Regions from separate parts of the Homo sapiens genome. Here region 1 is linked to region 2. The links come from fine-mapping of genetic effects on gene expression. A gene starts in region 2. The other region holds a variant in brackets. All regions are shown on one strand. Distances are between the middles of the regions.

Region 1 (2,925 bases), 51 kb before region 2:
TGCGTCAGATATGAGGAAGAAAATAGATTTTGGAAGTTATGAGAAATGTAGAGAGTAAGTTGAGCATAGTTTGTGATTTTGACGGCCTCTAAAAGTATTAGGGTGGCAGCAGCCGCTGCACGGAGACATGATGCCTAGGCTAAAACAGTAAGGTCAAGTTGTTTGGACAGAAAGGCTACAGGGTGCGGTCCTGGCTCTTGTGTAAGAATTCTGACCGCACTAACCATGCCTAGGAAGGAAAGGAGTTGTTGTTTTGTAAGGGATTGAGGTTTGGGAGATTAATCGGACACGATCAGCAGGGAACGCACGTGTGTTTTTATGAGATTATGCCGAGATAGGTAACAGATGAGGATGAAATTTGGGCTTGACTGAAGTAATGGGGGCTGTCTGTGAAGCCTTGCGGCAGTACAGCCTAGGTAATTTGCTGAGCCTAGTGGGTGTCAGGGTCAGTCCAAGTGAAAGCCAAGAGAGGCTGGGATGAAGGGTGGAAAGGAATAGTAAAGAAAGCATGTTTGAGATCCAGAACAGAATAATGGATTGTGGAGGGAGGTATTGAGGATAGGAGAGTATATGGATTTGGAACCACGGGGTGGATAGGCAAAACAATTTGGTTGATAAGGCGCAGATCCTGAACTAACTTGTAAGGCTTGTCTGGTTTTAGGACAGGTAAAATGGGGGAATTGTAAGGAGAGTTTATAGGCTTTAAATGGCCATGCTGTAGCAGGCAAGTGATAACAGGCTTTAATCCTTTCAAAGCATGCTGTGGGATGGGATATTGGCATTGATTGGAGTAAGGGTGATTAGGTTTTAATGAGATGGTAAGGGGTGCATGATCGGTTGCCAAGGAGGGAGTAGAGGTATCTTATACTTGTGGGTTAAGGTGGGGGAATACAAGAGGAGCACGCAAAGGAGGCTTTGGATTGGGAAGAAGGGCAGCAATGAGATGTAGCTGTAATCCAGGAATAGTCAGGGAAGCAGATAATTTAGTTAAAGTGTCTCGGCCTAATAGGGAACTGGGCAGGTGGGGATAATTAAAAGGAGTGCTTAAAAGAGTATTGTCTAATTTGGCACCAGAGTTGGGGACTTTTAAGAGGTTTAGAAGCCTGGCCATCAATACCCACAACAGTTATGGAGGCAAGGGAAACAGGCCCTTGAAAAGAAGGTAATGTGGAGTGAGTAGCCTTGGTATTGATTAAGATGGGGACAGACTTATCCTTCACTGTTAGAGTTACCCGAAGCTCGGCATCCATGATGGTCTAGGGGGCTTCCGAGGCGATTGGGCAGCGTCAGTCTTCAGCCGCTAAGCCAAGAAGATCTGGGAAGGAGTCTGAGAGCCTTGGGCCAGAGTTCCAGGGGCTCTGGGAGTGGCTGCCGGGTGAGTTGGACAGTCCGATTTCCAGTGGGGTTCCGTACAGATGGGACGTGGCTTAGGAGGAATCCTGGGCTGCAGGCATTCCTTGGCC[T/C]GGTGGCCAGATTTCTGGCACTTGTAGCAAGCTCCTGGGGGAGGAGGTTCTGGAGGAACGCCTGCCCGCTGTGGTTCAGGCATTTGGAAGTTCTTGTGTGCTGGAGATGTGGCTGGGGTTTGTCTCACAGTGGAGGCAAGGAATTGCAACTTTTTTCTATTATTGTACACCTTGAAGGCGAGGTTGATTAAATCCTGTTGTGGGGTTTGAGGGCCAGAATTTAATTTTTGGAGTTTTATTTAATGTCGGGAGCAGATTGGGTAATAAAATGTATTTTGAGAATAAGACGGCCTTTTGACCTTTTAGGGTCTAGGGCTGTAAAGTGTCTCAGGGTTGCTGCCAAACGAGTCATGAACTGGGCTGGGTTTTTCATATTTGATGAAAGAGTCTAAATGCTCACTGATTTGGGAGAGGTCTGATAAAGAAAAAGGAGCATTAACCTTGACTATGCCTTTAGCTTCAGCCACCTTTTTAAGAGTAAATTGCTGGGCAGGTGAGGGCTAGTCACGGAATGAAACTGTAAGCCGGACCGGGTGTGAGGAGGGGAGATGATAAAAGGATTATAGGGTGGAGGACCGGAGGCTGAGGAAGAATTGGGACCTAGCTCGGCCTGGCGAGGAGGGGAGAGGTCAGATGTGTCTGTAGAAAAGGAAGAGTAGAAAGACTCAGTGATGCTTGGGGTTGGGACTGAGGGGACAGGTGGGAGGGAAAGGAGGAAGATTTGGGATGAGTTGCATTGGGAACAGAGACTATAGAGGGACTGATGTGTAAAAGAATGCCTGGATGTCAGGCACCTCAGACCATTTGCCCATTTTACAACAAGAATTATTTAGATCTTGAAGGATGGAAAAATTGAAAGTGCCGTTTTCTGGCTATTTGGAACTACTGTCGAGTTTGTATTGGGGTCAAGCGGCATTGCAGAAGAAAATAAGACACTTAGATTTTAGGTTAGATGAGAGTTGAAGAGGTTTTAAGTTCTTAAGAACACAGACTAAGGGAGAAGAAGGAGGAATGGAGGGTGGAAGGTTGCCCATAGTGAAGGAGACAAACCCAGAGAAAAGAGAGAGTAGAGACATGGAGGGAAGGGGTTTGGGGGTTCTTACCCTCCAGAAAAGCGGGAAAGGGGTCGGGGCACAGAGATACAAGGTCAGGGCATGGAAATAAGGGATTGGGGTGCAGAGATATAAGAGGTTAGGGCACAGAAATAATGGATTGGGGTACAGCGATATAAGAGGTTGGGGCACGGAAATAAGGGATGGGGGCACAGAGATATGAGGTTGGGGTACTTGCCCCTCCTCTAGAAAAGCGGGACTTGCTGCTCAGGGTGAAGGAAAAGGGGTTGGGGGTTTCTTGCCCCCCAGAAAGGTGGAAAAGAGGTAGAGACACAGAGAGAAGGGGTTGGGGTACTTGCCCCTTCCCCAGAAAAGCGGGACTTGCCACTAAGGATGAAGGACCAAGGCAG
Region 2 (2,925 bases):
ACTTAATTGAATTGTGTCAGTTTTAAATAAGTAAACACACATAACGTTCTGAGCAAAATACCTAACACATAGAAATCTCTCAGTAATTGTTATTAATACGAGGTGTCAGACTGAATTTCTCAGTGCAAGGTACAAATAAGGCACTTCTTATAAATATTGACTAAAAATCTCCAACAGAAATTACTGTGTGTCCATACTAATTTCTACCCTCAAAAATAAAAACAAATATTCTATTTTTCAGTTGTATTATTCAAAGCAAACCAGCACAGCATTTAACTTGGAAGTTGTTAAGAGCACCACCTGTCTGATTTTCTTACAGCTGTCAGAAGCAAATTTTAGATCCACCTCCAAAAGTTTTACCTCAACTAGAACCAGACTGTGTCTGTATTCAAAGTAATTTAGTTTTGAAGGTTTCCTTCATTCTAAGAAATACGTACATATATATATGAAGTATATATGAAATATAAATATATATAACTAGCAACCATCAAATAGAAGATATGTATTATAGTATGTAGCTTTCAGTAAAGCATTGAAACAGAAAATATTTATTGTAACATAAAGATAGAATTTACCATTTAGAGGAAAATGAAGAATGAATTTACAAAAAGAACCAGAATTCTAACACTTAATTGCTTTATTTTAAAAATCATACTGATTCACAGTAAGTTTGTGGAATTCCAGTCTTTATCTCTGAATTTCCATTAATGGTCAAATAAATACAAATTTTATGGGAACACTTATGTCTTAAATTGTATATAAATCATATATATGTATGTGTGTTTTACATACCCTAGTAGGAAAGGAAAAACAAATTTAAGGTCTCCATTTAAAAATATCATAAAGCAGAAATGCTTCAAATTACTTTTTAAGTTTAAGTAAGCATTAGTGTAATATTTTAAGTAAGCATTAGTGTAATATTTTAAGTTCATCATGGTCTCCATCCTTGAAAACTTTGTAATTTTTGCTGGATAAGATATCGGCCATCATGTTACATGACCATAGCTATTTATAGAGGTGTGAGTAACAACTGTTAACTAGTGGGGCCTTTGGTATAGCAGAGAACAGTTTCCACATGCAAAATTTAAGAGAAATCTCTTTTTGCTCCCCCAATATACAGATCTGGCAGCCTCTCAGCTCCTAAATCCACTTCTCAGATCCTGTATAGAATCATTGACCAAGGCAATTACCTTAAAGCAACATTTTAAATGGACACATCGACAGTTAATGTGGCTGTCGATTTGCATATTTTTTTTCCTTACTTGATACTATCGGAAAATGGTAGCAATACCTTCAGCAGTGATCTCAGTCATGGTGGTCGTCAAAAGTAAAAGTCAGTTGAAAAGTTCCCGTCAAGTTGCACTTTGCAGAGTATTTGGGGATTTGAGAACTCTGGTGGAGGGTTCTGTGTCAAAACCTGGGGGCTCTTCGTTTTCCTGGCTGTTTCTGCTGCTTCTTTGTTGTCCTGTTGAACTTTGCCTCTCCTCTGCAGAGTTCTCCCCCTGGAAACAACCTAAGCCCTTTCCAAGCAGCACTTGTGGCTCAGCTAGAAGTATCAGCTTCAAACAAAAATAGCCTCATCTCCCTAGGACTCTTCAGCACTTTTTTTTTTCTTTTTTGGCACTCTAGAGGAACACACACACAGACACACCAGCTCTTCAGCCCCAAAGAGAGAAAGGCAAAAAACAAACAAACAAACAAAAAAAACCAAATGAACTACAAAGTACCATCTAAGCCCCCGCAGTTTCTCTAAGATAATTACAGATCCTGGGGTCTATGTCAGAAAACATGAAATAAAGAGTTGAAAGTAATCTTATCCGTGAGAGCTCAGATTTATTCTTAGTGCTCTTAATGCTCAGAACATTCTTCTTTCCCTTATTTGGTTTGGGGAGGGTCCCAAATGTCTATCACAGGCAAAAGGGAGGGTAGTCTTGAGTAATTTTCTAGAAGTTATGTTCCTGTTGATACAAATCCACTTAGCAAGTGCAGTTATTTATATAGGGCTACACTTAAAATTGCAACTATTAAATCTTGAAGCTTTCTTTTAAAGTAGTCATATTGTAGAAGATTAATATTTTCTGAACACTGGCCAATAAGAATTATGTAATGTGAATTTATAGTGTGATACTTGAAAAACATTGGATTGATGAATTACTATCTTTTTAATTCTCTCTACTACCTTACTAAGAACTAAATACCTGCATTTATCCATGCAGTAAAAAGGAAGGGAAGGTGACATAAAGTTTAGTAGTCCACAGCCAATATTTAAGTAAAGTATTTCCTTATCTCAACTTAAAAAAAAAAGGATTATAGCAGCCACTAACAATTAACCAAATTGGCTGATTAGCATTTCACCTTCCCACTCCTAGACAGGTGTTAATGAGCAAAAAAATATTCAATAGTTGGTAGTTGGAAGCAAAAGGAGAATCGAAGGGCATTGATAATCATAAACTCTAGCCAATCTGTGAATAATCAAGGGTTGACTACACTTTTATTTTATTCTCATATTCAACCTAATAAATGCTTGTAGTTTAATCTTTTAGCTTGAACTTGATACTTTTCGTTTTCAGACCTCCCGAATTCCTATGGTACTTCATAGATCATGAAGCAAAGCCATGTTTGTTATTTTTAAAATTCAGGCTCAGAAGAGTGCTGCAACAGCTATTTCCATAGGCAATGACCTCCTCCCTGTTAGTGGTTCTGTCTTAATCTACTGCCCCCATTCCTGACACAATAGAAAGTTGCTCATTTACCAGCTGAATACATAAATTAGTAACAAATCTTAATTTACAAGGAGGAAATGATTACATGATTACATTCATGATTTTATTCAATTCCTATATCTAGGACTGGGCCTAGAGCCTTTTAACTACAAGTTTGCTATCTTCCCCAAGAAATGAGGCCTTGTTGCAGATACTATGACTT

Alleles and levels. Alleles are on the strand shown, and positions count from the first base shown. SD is a standard deviation of normalised expression in the study named.
In carriers of allele T in region 1, the expression in iPS cells of the gene that starts at base 1,488 in region 2 tends to be lower than with C alone (large effect, 1.1 SD a copy in iPSCORE).

The links. PIP is the estimated chance that this variant, and not a neighbour inherited with it, causes the effect.
Region 1: its variant is fine-mapped to the expression of TRDN in iPS cells (iPSCORE, PIP 0.95).

The regions. Positions count from the first base shown.
Region 1 is chr6:123,584,263-123,587,187 of GRCh38, forward strand. The region is part of intron 1 of TRDN (triadin); the gene reads right to left. Among named protein-coding and RNA genes, the nearest start is that of TRDN, 51 kb to the right of the region's middle. The variant T/C (reference allele first, on the strand shown) is at 1,464.
Region 2 is chr6:123,635,463-123,638,387 of GRCh38, forward strand. TRDN (triadin) reads right to left here and starts at 1,488. Exons shown (of 41, transcript NM_006073.4): 1 at 1,292-1,488. The coding sequence starts at 1,313. All of the region lies in intron 1 of LOC105377981 (a long non-coding RNA gene), which reads left to right.